2 separate regions of the Homo sapiens genome follow, and region 2 is linked to region 1. Evidence: fine-mapped expression QTL. Tissue or cell type: left ventricle. Region 1 holds a variant in brackets; the other region holds the start of a gene. All regions are shown on one strand. Distances are from middle to middle.

The links. PIP is the estimated chance that this variant, and not a neighbour inherited with it, causes the effect.
Region 2: it holds the start of SDHA, and the variant in region 1 is fine-mapped to the expression of SDHA in left ventricle (GTEx, PIP above 0.99). The same link has a PIP of 0.9 or more in atrial appendage and tibial artery.

The regions. Positions count from the first base shown.
Region 1 is chr5:313,578-321,125 of GRCh38, reverse strand. All of the region lies in intron 3 of PDCD6-AHRR (PDCD6-AHRR readthrough (NMD candidate)), which reads right to left. PDCD6 (programmed cell death 6) reads right to left here. Exons shown (of 6, transcript NM_013232.4): 6 at 6,152-6,709. The coding sequence ends at 6,611. Among named protein-coding and RNA genes, the nearest start is that of AHRR, 4.4 kb to the left of the region's middle. RefSeq lists a silencer at 1-200 and an enhancer at 2,310-2,609. The variant C/A (reference allele first, on the strand shown) is at 3,613.
Region 2 is chr5:214,080-221,627 of GRCh38, reverse strand. It overlaps SDHA (succinate dehydrogenase complex flavoprotein subunit A), which reads right to left and starts at 3,308. Exons shown (of 15, transcript NM_004168.4): 1 at 3,210-3,308. The coding sequence starts at 3,272. CCDC127 (coiled-coil domain containing 127) reads left to right here and starts at 3,475. Exons shown (of 3, transcript NM_145265.3): 1 at 3,475-3,535; 2 at 4,769-4,899. The coding sequence starts at 4,779. RefSeq lists silencers at 2,698-2,937, 3,168-3,497 and an enhancer at 2,490-3,298.

The DNA.
Region 1 (7,548 bases):
CGGCCCTGGGTGCCCCTGCCCCGCCCACCCCGCCGGTCGGCACCCGGGACCGCGCGGCCGAGAGCAGGGTCCTGCCTGCAGGTCCTTAGGGCTCACCCCGCGCCCTCTGCGCGCCCGCCGGCCCCTCCGACCTCGGGCTGCGCCTTCTCCTTCCCCCTCCCGGTGGTCCTTGGCCCCCTCTAGTCCTCCGTCCGGGCGCGCAGGCCCTGGCTGAATTCCCTGTACCCTCAGGGGATCCCTGGGGACACCTCAGCCTGGCCTCGCACCCTGACGTCTCCACAGACCCTGGCCGGCTTCCACCCGTTCTCGCCCTCGCTGGGGCCGGCCATGGAGTCGGTGGTCCCTGGAGTCCGCTCCTCAGCATCCGCGGTCCTCATCCCAGCCGGGGGAACCGCGCCCTCTTCATCCCGCAAGGTCGGTTTTCAGCAACGCGGCCGAGGCTGTCACTGGCGCCCCCAGGTTCTCAGTCAAACCCCGTCTCCCTGACGCCCCCAACCCGCCCCGCGCCTCCTGCTGTTCTCTGAATAAGGCGTGCGGGCCTTGGGGCCTTTGCACTCGCTGTCTGCTGTCGGCTCAGGAAAAGTCTCTTTTCCAGACACAGCTCCCAAGGTGGGGTGGGCGCAGCTGAGAAGCCCACCCTGCCCCCAAGTGGCCACCGCCCCTCCCCGGGTGTAGCTCCTGCAGGGCAGCCCAGAATTGCTGAGTTCTGCCGCTCTGTCCCCAGGGGTCACCAAGTCGGCTCTGCTCACCTCTGGTTCCTGTCGAATAGCAGAGGCTCAAAAATGTGAGCTGAGTAAATGGGCTTTTTTGGGACAGAGTCTTGCTTTGTCACCCAGGCCTGAGAGCAGTGGTGCGATCTCAGTTCACTGCAGCCTCTGCCTCCAGGGCTCAAGCGATTCTCGTGCCTCAGCCTCCCAAGTAGCTGGGATTACAGTCGCGCGCCACCACACCTGGCTAATTTTTTTTTTTTTTTAAGTAGATAGTGGTTTTGCCATCTTGGCCAGGCTGGTCTCGAACTCCTGACCTCAGGTGATCCACCCACCTCGGCTTGCCAAAGTGTTGGGATTACAGGCATGAGCCACTATGCCACTGAGACAGCCAGGAGCCCTGGGTGCACACATTTATTTTTTGATATGGAACAATGTGCAACTATATTGCTGTATTTTTAAAAATCATTAGTTTTATCTTGATCCAATTTTTGTAAAGTGAATTATGCACAGAAAATGTGTAGCTGGATAACTCTGAGGTAACAGGTGAACTTTAATTTCTTTTTACTTTTTGAAAAGTCTACAATTCCTGTAAATTTTTGCAAGAAGCACATAGTACCTTTGTGATCTGTTAAAATAAGAACCTGTGGGTAGAATGTGATGGTGGTGAGCCGCAGTCCCCCTGCATGGGAAGACAGCACCCCCATGTCTCAGGGCAAGCACGGGTTCCCTTCCACCTACCCTGTCCCACCAGAACCAACTGGAATGAGACACTTTGTTACTCTATTTCCTGGGTACAGAAGGAAACTGCTCCTCCTTCCTTCCCACTGCCCTTGACCGGCACAGGCCATCCACGCCCACCTGTCCCCTGTGCTTGTCCCCAAAGTCTCAGGTCTCTGCAGGACCTGGGGCAGCCAGTGGGACTGTGCAGAAAAAGGATGACCCTGCCGTGGGAGCCACTGCCCCTAAAGTCTCAGGGTTTAGCAGGCAGAGCCCCACGTGGAGTCCTGGAGTCTCTGGGCACCCCACCAGCACAATGGGGGATCCCTGAGCCACCTCCCGTTCAGACGGGCTATTGGGCGTGCCTCCCTCCCCACCACGAAGGTCCAGATGCAGCTGACACCCCCAGTCACAGAGTCTCCTTTCTGCCTCTGTGCTGGGGACCCTGTTCAGGAGGTCTCCTCCCTCCAGTCCGGACTTGCTGTCCCCAGTGTCATTGAACCCTCTGGCTCCCACCCACACTCCCAGCAGCTGGAGACACACCCCTTTCTCCTGGGCCACTGGTCCTCTCGGGACTCTGAACCAGAGGCGCTAACACCTGGCAGGGATGGCAGCTGGGGCAGGACTGGAAGCCTCCGAGGACCCACCCCCAGCTCCGGGTACCCCCACACTGGAGTCTGGTGCGGTGGGTCCCCAGAGCCATATGAGCTGGACTTGGCCTCCAGTGGACCGCCACATGGCAGGTGCCCACGGCCGGCTGCAGCGCCAGGCCCCTCCCAAACAGGCCCAAGTTGGCTTCACAGAAGTGTGGGGGCAAAGCTGCTCTTCATGGGCCTCCAGGAGTGGTGACTGTGACTGCCCCCTCCTGTCCTCTCCTGGCCACACCTTTGCCTCCCACAGGCAGGCCAGGTCAGGAGCCCCCAGGGCCCTGACCTCAGAGGCAGACAGGGGTGTGCTGACCCCTCGGGCCAGGCCAGGACCCCGCACAGGCGCCTGCGGCTCTCTGGCTCTCTGATGGCGGCTGGGTTTCCCGGGTTCCCCGGGTTCCCCATGACTGCTGTGTCTCCAGCGTTGATGCCTCACAGGGAGCCGCTTGGGCAGCCCTGGTCACGCCTGGGTTCCCTCTCTCTCCCACACCAGTTTCTCCCTGGTCACGCCTGGGTTCCCTCTCCCACACCAGTTTCTCCTGTAGCACAGAGAAGGACCTGGGGAATTTTGTCTTTTGTTAAAAACCACAAGGGAGCTCCCTGCTGGGCACAGTCACGGTGGCGCCCGTCAGAGCTGCTTCCAGGGTGCATTCCATCATTCCAAGTTCACTGTGCTGGAGTCAGCTCTCTGCTTGCCGCAGGGTGAGGGGGGGAGGTGGAGGGTGAGGGGGGAGGTGAAGGATTGGGGGAGGTGCAGGGTTGGGGGGAGATGCAGGGTGGGGGGAGGTAAAGGATGGGGGGAGGTGCAGGGTTGGGGGGAGATGCAGGGTGGGGGGAAATAAAGGATGGGGGGAGGTGCAGGGTTGGGGGGAGATGCAGGGTGGGAGGGAGGTAAAAGATGGGGAGAGGTGCAGGGTAAGGGTGGGAGGTGCAGGGTGCGGGGGGGAGGTGGAGGGTGAGGGGGGAGATGAAGGGAGGGGGGAGGTGAAGGATTGGGGGAGGGAAAGGATGGGGGGAGGTGCCAGGTGAGGAGGGAGGTGAAGGATGTGGGGAGGTGCAGGGTTGGGGGGAGATGCAGGGTTGGGAGTAGGTGGAGGGTGAAGGGGGGAGGTACAGGATGGGGGGAGGTGCAGGGTGAGGGGCAGGTGCAAGGTGAGAGGGGAGTTGAAGGGTTGTTGGGGGAGGTGCAGGGTTGTGGCGGGGAGGTGCAGGGTGGCTGTTGGGGGAGGTGCAGGGTTGTCCGGGGAGGTGTAGGGTTGTGGGGGGAGATCAGGGTAGGGAGGGTGGGGAGGCATGGGCCAGGGGCCCCAGGTGAGGGTGTACGGCGTGCACCTGCACCTCCATGTCTGCACTGATGACTGAGGACCCAGAGCGGGGGGAAGGAGAGGCCCCCAGAGATGGCTGTGCCCCCATGTCCTGCTGTCTTGGGTCTTGGGACCGGGGTCGTGACGCTGAGGGTCCCTGGTGGGTGGTCGTGGCCGCTGGCCTGGCCTGGCCTCCGCGACCCAGCCTCACCACACTGGGCCTGCGCCAGGCAC[C/A]TGGTCAGCTGTCCACCCCCTCCACCCCCAAACCCAGGCTCTGAAGGGTCACAGGGCACAGCCTGCCTGACAAGGGAGAGCTGAAAGGGCGAAGGCCCGTCTCTCTGTAGTCTTCTCTCTGCGGCTATAAATCCCATGGCTGTGTCGGGCAGGTCCTCCCGGTCAGTCAGCAGCTCCCGAGAGCTCCGTGGTGCAGCCGCACTGCCCCCACGTGGCCCAGGCTGTGTGCAGCTGCCTGGCCCTTGGGGCCTCAGAGTGCAGTGAGGTTTAGCTCAGGGGCTTCCCTCACCCAGGAAGGCGTGGGTGGCCTCCCTGCAGGCGCCTGAGGATGGGGTCTGTGCTGGCAGTGTGGCTGGGCAGGGGGCACGGCAGCCCTGCTTCCCTGCGGGTTGGCACCCCCTCCACAAGGAATCCACCACAACTCGTGAGCTCACTGCCCTCCAGGGACCCCCAGTTTTGTATCAGTGACTCCGGCCAGGAGAGCAGGGGAGTCCCCCCTCCACACCTTCTGCTTCGAGAGGCTCCTCACCGCCTCCCTCCCTTGACTTCTGATGGCTGGGAGCTCCCCGGGGAAATGTCCCTCCCAACAGCCACAGCCCACCAGCCCAACAGGCTCTCTGCATCCAGGGGTTCCTTTGCCAGCAGGCCGGCCTGACATGCGTTTGTCCAGCGCTCTACCCCTGCTGGTCCTCCAAGCGTGTGGTGCAGCGGCCCCACCGCCCTCCTCACCCTCTGCTGAAGAACTTCTGCTCTGGAATTTTCAGCGGCTTTTGTTCTTGTGAGTCTTCATGGAGGCCCCTCTCCAAGGCAGCCTCCCCGAGCTGCCTGCAAACAGGAGCCCCCATGGCAGCCACGTGCAGAGTACCTGAGGGTACCTGCACCACACACCTGAGTGTACCTCACACCTGTGAACCTGCCACACCTGAGCATACCAGAGACCTGAGAAACACACTTTATCTCCATCAGAGGAACCTCTCATTGCTGTGAAAAGGAAGGAAGGAAAATCATCCACAATCTGACCTTTTCTCTATGAAAGTCTCCGTCTCACCTGGCCTTCGCCTGCTTTCTAGGAGTATGGAGCTAACCGCCACACACAACATTCCTTCCCCGGCAGCTGATCCACAGGATGAGCACATCGGCCTTGGTATCAACTGTTGGCCCGTATCATCCATGGAGACATGTGCTGGGGGCAGGTGTCTCACCAGGGCTGACAGCTCCTCCAGAGTAGCAGGCTTCCCTGACCCAGGTAGGAATCCAGAGGCCAGAGAAGCTGCAGGTGTGGGGTGGGGGTTGCCCACTGCACAGGGGACAGCACGGGCAAGGGCCTGGAGACGTGGCTGGGAGGGCTGCAGGGTGGCCGCAGCAGCTGCCCTCACCCCAAGCACAGAGACCTCACAGGCCTAAGGCTGAAGGAGGAGTGAGGGCAGCTCCCAGGGTGGGGTGGGTGCAGCTACTGGACACTGAGTCCAGGTGCCCATGAGGCGAGGGAGAAGTCGCTGGGCGCCTGGCCGTGGAGGCCTGGGTGAGGAAGGCCTCATGGAATTGGGAGCTTGCGGCCTGGACAAGGAAGTTGACCTCATGGAGTAGAACTTGGGGTCATCTGCTGCAGAGTCATGGGGGTGTCAAGGTCTAGGGAGGCACCCGGCGTGGATTGCTGGGGATCCTCAGAGACTGCCCTGGGATCCCCATGACTGAGGTCATGAGGGAGCAGCCAGACCCCCAAGCCCACATCCCTCCCCCTCCCATCCCCAGGGAGCCTGGAGTGCCTGCTCCAGAGGGATTCGTATCCAGAGGGCCCCAGGCCAAGTGCAGTTGGGCAGTGGGGGAGGTCTCATCTGGAGCACAGAAGCAGCCCCAGTCCCCACCCCCCACAGCACACCTGCCCAGCTTAAGAGACTGGGGGCTTTTTCCAGGAAACCATGCTCCCTGCCCCTCACCCCTCAACACACCGAGCAGAGGTTTGAACAGATCCCAAGAGACCAAAACGAACAGAGAAAAGTCGTGCACAACTGGGTGGAAGGAGCAGGCTTTCTGAGACCAGAGGCTGCAGCCCCAAAACCAGACGCATCACTGTGGAAGGGAAGCGTCTGGAGAATGAGGCTGGGCCTCGGGAGTGTCAACCCAGGAGGGCCGGCGCTGCACAGTGAGGCAGGGAGGCGGACCGGGCAGCGCTGGCAGTGGACCGAGGTGAGCAGGATGCGCTGGGTGGACAAACGCTGCAGGCCACGTGCAGAGACTGCAGGGCACAGCATGGCTAAATCATTAATGATGGAAATGCACAACCTGCTATACCAAATTGGATTTCTTCATCCAAAAGGAGCAGTCTTATGAAATTTAACCTCCTGAACAGAGGGTGAGACAGTCCCTCTGGATTTTCACAAGCAGAGCTGTGCACGCTGGGCTGGACAATGTTCCAGAAGGTGCCCGGTACCCTGGGAGGTCCCAGGCAAGCCAGAACATCTGACACTGACTGTCTGGAGGACCAGGGCACGGGGCCTGGTTCTTGGACCTATTTGATTTGAAAAGCTGAAGGCAGACCACACGTCTAACATTCCCTTTATTGCTTACGTCACATATTCCAATGAATACAATAAACTCCTTTTTAAAAAAGTAAGGCACATGAAAAGCCTTTTGTGTAAGTTCCATGTTATTTTAAAATTCCTATTGGCTAATAAAAGCATTTGCACTATAGAACCAGAGACATCTAGAAAAGCACATGATAGATTTTTTTGCAAGCAGAATGCCTGAAACATTACATTTACCTCATGGCACAATGAGACAGTCACCAAATCCAATGTCTGCATTAGAACGATACAGCTACTATTACAGTTGCAAAACCATTAATCAGCTTATCCACATATGTACAGCTGGGTCCCCACGTGACAAAATCTAAAGGAAGAACAGCATCTAACTGCACCTGTGCTCCATTCCCTCACAGATAGGAACTGTGACATTTTGGCTCTTTCCATGTTGTGCTGCTCTTCACGAGAGGCCAGGGTCATACGATACTGAAGACCATGGACAGGTACTGTTCGTACGACACCTGAATCCAGCCGTCCTGATCCGTGTCGTAACGTCTGAATATATCCGTCAACCTCTGGGGAGAAAACAGGCATTTAAATCTCGATAGTAAATGGAAGGAGCAAGGTGCACTGGGACAAAGGCATGTAGGGACCCAATTTCAGAAGCACACACGTCTTCTGGGCTCCCTGATGGAGCCCAGCACAGGGAGGCGCAGGTGGGGCTGGAGCTGTTCACACGGACGGTGGGAGTGCGAAGAACGAAGAACACAGGGCTGCGGGGCTGGCTCCGGACATCCAGCCCTGGCTGAGCCCCTGGCTGAGCCCCTGACCCCAGGCTCTGGTCTCCTGAGTCTCCTGGGGGCCTGGGCCCTTCCTTCTCCCCCTGAAGACCGTCCCGTGGAAGCCCTCCACCCTCCAGTGGCTCGCCTCTGCTGTGGGGGCCACCTGGGGCATGTGCAGCGCAGGGGATGCCCAGCCAGATGGGCTTGTGACATCACGAGGGCTTCAGGTTCCTCCAGCCCAGCCCACCCCTCCCTCTCACAGCCGAGGGTCCAGGCCAGGTCAGCGGCAGAGACAGGGTGACCACCTACACTCCTGAAACAGGGATGGTTAAGTAAGTGACACTTCAACCGTAAAATACCCTGAAGATTCAGGCCAGCATGGTGACTCTCGCCTGTGATCCCAGCACTTTGGGGGTCCGAGGCGTGAGGATCGCTTGAGCCTGAGGGTCGAGGCTGCAGTGAGCCGTGTTCGCACCACCACACTCTGGCCTGGGTGATGGAGCAAGGGTCTGTCTCAAGAAAGAAGAAGAAAATGTGGCAGGGAAGACACAGCGTCCTCGCACATCAAGACCTGCAGGAACATGGACAGGGTGTGGTGACTCTCGCCTGGGATCCCAGCTACTCAGGAGGCC
Region 2 (7,548 bases), 99 kb after region 1:
ACATATAACTAAAAGGAATACTTAGACCTTGCTTAACAATACAGAATTTCAGATGACTGAATTAGGAGGTGGAGGGGAAAAGTAAGAAGTGCAGAGACATTCATATCCGAAATCTAGCAAAGTAAGGGGTCCTCATCTAATACAACGCACCTATAAATCACGAGCAAGAAACTAATCTGCATGTACAACCTACACAATCACAAAAGCAGCCAACGAAGAACCTAAAAACGCACGACTGTATCAGGAAGAAGCGGAAGCAGGGTAGTTTAAGTGAACTAAATCCCCTCTCTAGGCAAGAAGTCTAAAACTGATAAAAATGCACCTGCATATCCGCTAAAGAAACAGAGGTATTACAAATGCCAGGAGTCAGTATCAGAAACAGGAATTGCTTTCATGGAAAATGAACTGGGTGAGGGAGGGTATACTCATTGATTCTTTTACAACTGCGTGTAATTATTCTCACTAGAATTTTAGTGTTTATTATTTTAAAAACAGGGATACTTAAAATACAGTTCGGCCGGGCGTGGTGGCTCACACCTGTAATCCCAGCCCTTTGGGAGACCGAGGCGGGCGGATCACGAGGTCAGGAGATGGAGACCATTCTGGCTAACATGGTGAAACCCCGTCTCTACTAAAAACACAAAAAAATTAGCCGGGCATGATGGCAGGTGCCTGTAGTCCCAGCTACTCAGGAGGCTGAGGCAGGAGAATGGCGTGAACTCGGGAGGCAGAGCTTGCAGTGAGCCGAGATTGCGCCACTGCACTCCAGCCTGGGTGACAGAGTGAGACTCTGTCTCAAAAAAAAAAAAAAATTCAGTTCACACATGGTTACTGTGCATAGGCTGTGAGCCCTGGTTCTCAAGAGCATCACCAAAGGTTTCAAACATTACCCACAGAATCCTCACTAACCCCACGGAAAGACGGAGCTCAGAGAGGATTCAAGTCGGCCGGCCTGGCTCTGGATCCTGGACTTGCCCCCCTATCTAAAGACCCTTGGGAAAAATCTCTGAGACTCCCAACTAATATTAATATCCAGGTTTCATATCAAAAAACAAGTCACAATTTTTCAAATAAATCAGGAAAAACATCATGAGGAATGCAGAATGGAATGCCATTGTTGTTACAATTATCCCAAGAAGCAAAGCAAAGGTTTACTACTATAATGGCCTAAATAATGTATTTCTAGAACACCATTAAACATATTCAGAACAATCCATTCAAAGAAAAGAAATCAATTTGTCCTAGAACAATATATTGGATGTTCATGTTAAGGGATTTGAAAAACTTCACCTGAAGTAAGCAGTTAACCAGTAACTATTGAAGTTTCTTGGTTTTCTTTTTCCTCTGATTAAACTGCTTTCGAACAGTTTGCAAGCTGTGTCAGTGCACTGGGCCATAAAAAGAAACCAAAAGCAAAATAAGTCTGATAAGTTCGTCACTTGAAAGCAGTTGTAAATACAGAATGATCAAAACACCACAGAACTGGCCAAAATGAGGTTAAAAAATTCTCTCTGGACTTTACTGAAATTATCCTCAGCATCTATTTTCCAAACACATTTCTCAGTTGGCTATCACGAATTTCTTTCTTTTTTCTGCTAATTTTTTGATTATGCTGTTCCTTCGTAAACTCCAATTCTTCAGGAAAAAAAGCCTATCTGAAATGCCGATAAATATGCTGCTTGCAGGCAGAATTTCTGTAGGAAAAGCTAACTTCATCAAGATAAAAAGACTTTTACAAAACCCAAGACTAAATTTTGGTTCAATTTTGCTATCTTGCCATCCCGTCTGAGGTGCCTCCGCCGCTGGCAGGGTCTTAGTCTGCAGAAGGAACACCGGGCACCATCTGGGTTGAGGACAAAGGCACTAGCTCTAGCTTTTCTCCAATCACAAGCTACCATTTCCCCTAAAAAGCCCCACTGACCATGGGCTTTCCTTCCTGCTTGTGGACGCCCTCCTAGCAGCTCTTAAAAGCCCAAGATGCGGCAGGGGTCTCTGCTCAGTCAGTACCAACCACAGCAACACACTAGAACGGTTTACACGCTTTCTGATGTTGGCAGGATGGCTGTATGACTAATCCTCACATTTAACTCAACGAGATTTTTAATAAGTATTTCAAAAAGGAGAAAATTGCACAATTACAGGCATAATTCAAATCAATATTGCTGAATGCCTTGGTTCCTATTGAGATTTTTATTCTGCAATTTAAAATTACTTTGTAATTAAGGAGGTGGGTGGGTAAGTTCATTTAAAAGAACCAAACAACTAAACCTATCCAATTTAGCTTGATTAAATAAAACCCTAGAAGGCCGATTCTTAAGATGCAATCGTAGAGGGCACATTCAGACACTCAGAGAGCAAGGGCTCAGGGAAGTATAACCCTGACCACCATCCTGGACTAAGCCGAGCCCGGCCCTAGAGGCACTCAGCGCACAGGCAAGCACAGGTCCCGGCGTCCTCGCCCGGTCAGTGCGCTGAGCTCTCCGCCTGAGTTTTAAAAACTGGCACAGCTGCTTTTAAACACTGGCACATTTTTGGTGGCATAAGGACCACCAAACACGACCCAAAGTAGAAGCCCTTAACTTACAAGGTCTCGAAGTGGACATGGACAGATTTGCGCTTTCTGGAAAGGCGAACTGCAAGCCTAAGCTCGGGCGCGCCACGCTTCCCACCGGACGCCCACCGGGCCGAGCCCGGCCACTCCTCGCACCCACCCGGGCGGTCTCACCCGCCCCGCCGGCCCCACCCACGGGCTGCGGGCTGCTCCTCAGGACAACCCGCACAGAGGGCGGCAGAGGCCCAGCCCAGCCAGGGCGGCCACCGGCCGCTATCCGCCCGGGTGACCTTGGGCAGACACGACTCCTCCCCGAGTCCACCTGCCAGGCACTGAGGCGAGGGGCTACCTCAGCCCGCGGGGTCCCAGGACCCCAGGCCCGGACCAAGGCGGCGGAGGGGACGCCCAGCAAGCCCGCGGGGTTGTGACCTTCACCCGGACGCGGACTATCTACTAAGGACCGAGCTCCCCGGGTCCCCGAGTCCGCCCCGCGGCTTCCCCTCGCACCGGCCCAGGGCTCTCTCAGCCCCTTCCCGATCCCGGGACAGAGGGCGCAGGGACCCGGCGCCCGCTCCGCTCGGACCCGCTGGGGACCGTCCCGCTCCTACCGCCGCCTCGGCCCCCGCCTGCCCCGCCCCGGTCCGCGGCACGGACTCACCGCCTTGGCCAGCGCCAGGCGCCGAGCGCTCAGCAGCCGCGACAGGCCCCGGACCCCCGACATGTCTGCTGTTGCCGCCGCGCAGTCCCGCCAGTCCCTGCGCAGACTGCGCCTGCGCACCACACCGGGGTCGAGCTGGCGGGGGAGGGGGGATACCGCGCCTGCGCACCACGCCGGAGTCGAGCGGGGCTGCAGTGGGGGACATCGCGCCTGCGCACCATGCCACGCCCGGAGCGGGTACTGAGTGGGGGCGCCGCGCCTGCGCAAAGCGGACCCGCGGACGGTGGCGTTAAGGGAACGCTGAGGTCCCGCGCTCCCCGACCGAGGTAGAGCGGGCCCTGTTCCGGGGAGGTGGTGGGCACCAACATTTTTAAAGCCCCGTGGGTGGTTCTCCGGGATCGCCCAGACCGAAGGGCCTGAACGCCCAGACCGCAGGGAATGGGGTCGGAGGGGGGCGCTCGTCCGCGGAGGTGGGCGGGAGCGGCCCGGGGCCTCCGACCTCTTGTTTATTATACATCCCTTGATTAACTAAACTATTTTGTAATTGTGTGTGTTTGTGGAGGTCACATGTAAACAAACTTAAAGTGACTCTACTTTGTGAAAATGTGAAACTTCGTGTAGGTACTCAGTAAATCAGTAAATTCTTACTAACGTTAGCCCCCAGCCTAGCTATGGAGGGTGCATGCTGAGCCCGAAGCAGAGAACTCTGTAATCTCTGCATTCATCACCACCACGAGGAGGCCTCAGAAGCTTCTAGCACTGTTTGCACCTTCCCCACATCACCCCTCCCTGCCTTCCTCACAGTCTTCCTTCTGATCAGAAGACCCTTTCCTTCTTTCTCTGCCTGTCAAAATGCTGCTCACTCTTCAAACCCTAGCTCATATGAAAGTGTCCGGTGTGAGCCCACTTTTATCGAGTTGATTCTGTATCTTTGATACAACTGTATGAGGGTTCTCCAGAGACACAACAAATAGAAGGGAGACGTGAGGAATTGGTTTAAAGGTTCAATTGCTAATCTCATCCAAAAACACCCTTACAGACACGCCCAGAAATAATGCTTAACCATGTATCTGAGCACCTCATGATGCCGTCAAGTTGACAAACAAAATTAACCATCGCAGCAGCCATACATTTAAACATATTTGTACCAGAGAACTTACCTGATTCTACCTGCACTTCAGATGCTTAAGACATGTCTGTTTTCTCCACTTTCCCCAACCAGATTGTGAGTCGCTTTCATCTTAAGTTCTTGTTTTTTTTTTCCTTTTTCTTTTTCTTTTTTTTTGGGGGGGACGGAGTCTCGTTCTGTCACCAGGCTGGAGTGCAGTGGCGCGACCTCGACTCACTGCAACCTCCACCTCCCAGGTTCAAGCGATTCTCCTGCCTCAGCCTCCCGAGTAGCTGGGACTACAGGTGCCCGCCACCATGCCCGGCTCTGGTCTAGTTTTTTTCTTCTTTGAATCCCGTAGGGCCTCAGTGCTGTGCAGCAAGCACATAGTTAAAACTGAAGAAAAATTTCTTGAATAAAAGTAGTTAACGTTTTTATTCTTTACTTCAAGGTATATCTCCATGAATAACCTAAATGATCCCCCAAATTGGAATATCCGGCCTAATTCCAGGGCGGATGGTGGTGATGGAAGCAGGTGGAATTATGCCCTGTTGGTTCCAATGCTGGGATTGGCTGCTTTTCGTAAGTCATGGTTTTCTTAAAATTCGTGTTTTCCAGGCTGAGAGTGTGGAGCCCCGGTGAGGGAGGCAGCATGGTGTGGGAGCCTGAAGGCCGTGACTTTGGGACCTGCCAGGGACAGCCGAGTTTTATCCCCTGCAGTGAACCGTGGGCAAATCACTTAAGCTCTGAGCCTCAGTCTTCCTGTTCACAGGAGATGGATAATCATACTTAACCTCAGCACACTGCAAGGATTAAGTCAGCCAAGGCGTTTAGAAGCATTTTGTGTGGGGTGGGTTTTAATAACTTAGTTCCCTCTGAAGGCTTTGCTGCTCTCAAGTCGGGGAGGAGGTTCCTTATTTCAGGTGCCCTCATAAGGACTGCTGGGGAACAAAACGGGTGTAAAGGAAACCAGTGGGCTGGGCGTGGTGGCTCATACCTGTAACCCCAGCACTCTGCGAGGCCCAGGTGGGCAGATCGAGTGACCAGCCTGAGCAACACAGCAAAACCCCGTCTCTACAAAAAAATACAAAAATTAGCAAGTCGTGACGGTGCACACCTGTAGTCCCAGCTACTCAGGAGGCTGAGGTGGGAAGATCAGTGGAGCCTGGGAGGTCGAGGCTGCAGTGAGTGGAGATGGCACCACTTGCCCTCCAGCCCGAGCAACAGGGTTAAAAAAAAAAAAAAAGAAAACCAGTTTTGGAAAACCAGTGATGTTTAATGTTTAGGAAATCAGTCTTTGGGAGACTTCATCCATGAAATCTCTGCTTGGCCTGGCCAGAAAAATTCTCTCTAGTTTAGATTGACTTGGCACCACTTTGGGGACCTGCCGGTCATATGCAGACTTACATCCCCACCACACAATCAATTCACTGATGCAGAGGAGTGAGTTTTGTGTTTCTTCACATTCCATGGTTCTGGGCTGGCACTTAGGAACATGAGAAACTGAATAATTGAATGGAAGAAAGGCAAAACTGCCCTCTAGTTGTAGCGATACATTTTGTGTAGTGGCTTTTTATCTGCTTCCATGTCTCAGGTCAGAAGTTTTGCTGTAGAGGAAGAGGAGGCTGGTAAGAGCAGGTGGTTTTTATGATTCAGTGATCTGCGCAGTGCTTGCTTCTTGGTGAAAGACAGGGCAGGTCCACATCCAATCCTAAGGGGCTGCCATGTAAAAAGCTCATCCGCCTGCAGGCTTGGGAAAAAAAACCCTTAACACTTGGAGAGGCTACTGTTGCCTGTGGCTAGGGTGAGTGGATTGGAAGGCTTAAAATTACTCTGACTAATGTAATAATTAATTGGCTTTGAGGCTGGGAGAGGCCCTGAAGTGACTCATTTTCCATTTGTTTTTCAGACTCATCTCCAGCTTTTATAGCCTTTCATGATAACTTTCACTTTTGAAATTCTTACCTTCCCTTCTTGGACTTTTGAAATGATGCTTTCTGTCCCTGAAAAGGGTTGAAGAATATTTTTTTCTTCCTGGTTTTTTGCTGAGGTAGTGTGGTCAGAGAGAACTGTTAAGTTGGTGTTCTTGTAAGGATTCTCCAAAGGTGTGTTACGATGTGTTTGAGGTTCTGTTGCACATAGGAGCGTTAACCAGCCCCTAGTGTAGTCTAGAAGAAGAGGCAGACATATGAATACTTGATAAGCGCTATTGGTTGATTTATTGATGAGAGGCTAGTTTTGTCCTGATCACTCGCTTCATTTACTAGAATTTTTTTTTTTTTTCGAGACGGAGTCTTGCCCTGTCGCCAGGCTGGAGTGCAGTGGCGCGATCTCGGCTTGCTGCAACCTCTGACTCCCTGGTTCTAGTGATTCTCCTGCCTCAGCCTCCCGAGTAGCTGGGATTACAGGCGCCCCTCACCACGTCCAGCTAATTTTTGTATTTTTAGTAGAGACGGGGTTTCACCACATTGGCCAGGATGGTCTCGATCTCCTGACCTCATGATCTGCCCGCCTCGGCCTCCCAAAGTGCTGGGGTTACAGGTGTGAGCCACCGTGCCCAGCCCATTTACTAGATTTTTACTTAACATAACATAGAAATGTGTGTAATTGTGCTTGCCCGAAAGAGCAGTCCCTGGAGAAATTCTTACCCTGAGTAGCTCCCAGGGGAGAATATTCAGTATTTCAGCACTCCAGAGGGCTTCTCTCTCTTCACACCTCCTCTGTCATTCTGCTTCCCCCCTTTTCTCTCAGTCTTCTTGATTGCCCTTTCCCCATCTCTCTCTCCGTGCTTTTCCCATCTCTCCGTGCTTTCTCCCCTCTAGTGTTCCTGTACCTCCTGTTTCCTCCCCTGACCCAGAAAACATAGTTTTAGAGCTGAAAGGGACTGGTTGAGTTCACTGGGCCCAACTCAGTTTCTTTTAATTAAATATTTTATTTTGGGGTCATGTAAATCACATGCAGTTGTCATCAGTAATGCAGAGAGCCCGTGTACCCTCTACCCAGCTTTCCCCAGTGGAAGCATCTGCAAAACGATAGTGCAGTGTCACAGCCAAGACATCTGCCAGGATGCGGTCAAGATACCCCAATCCCTGGGGCCTCACGTGCTGCCCTGTGTACCGCCCCTCCCTCCATAGCCCCCGGCAGCTACTGATCTGTTCTTCATCTCCAGAACTTTGTCATTTCAAGAATGTTATGTAAATGGAATCAAACAGTATATAACCTTTCGGGTTG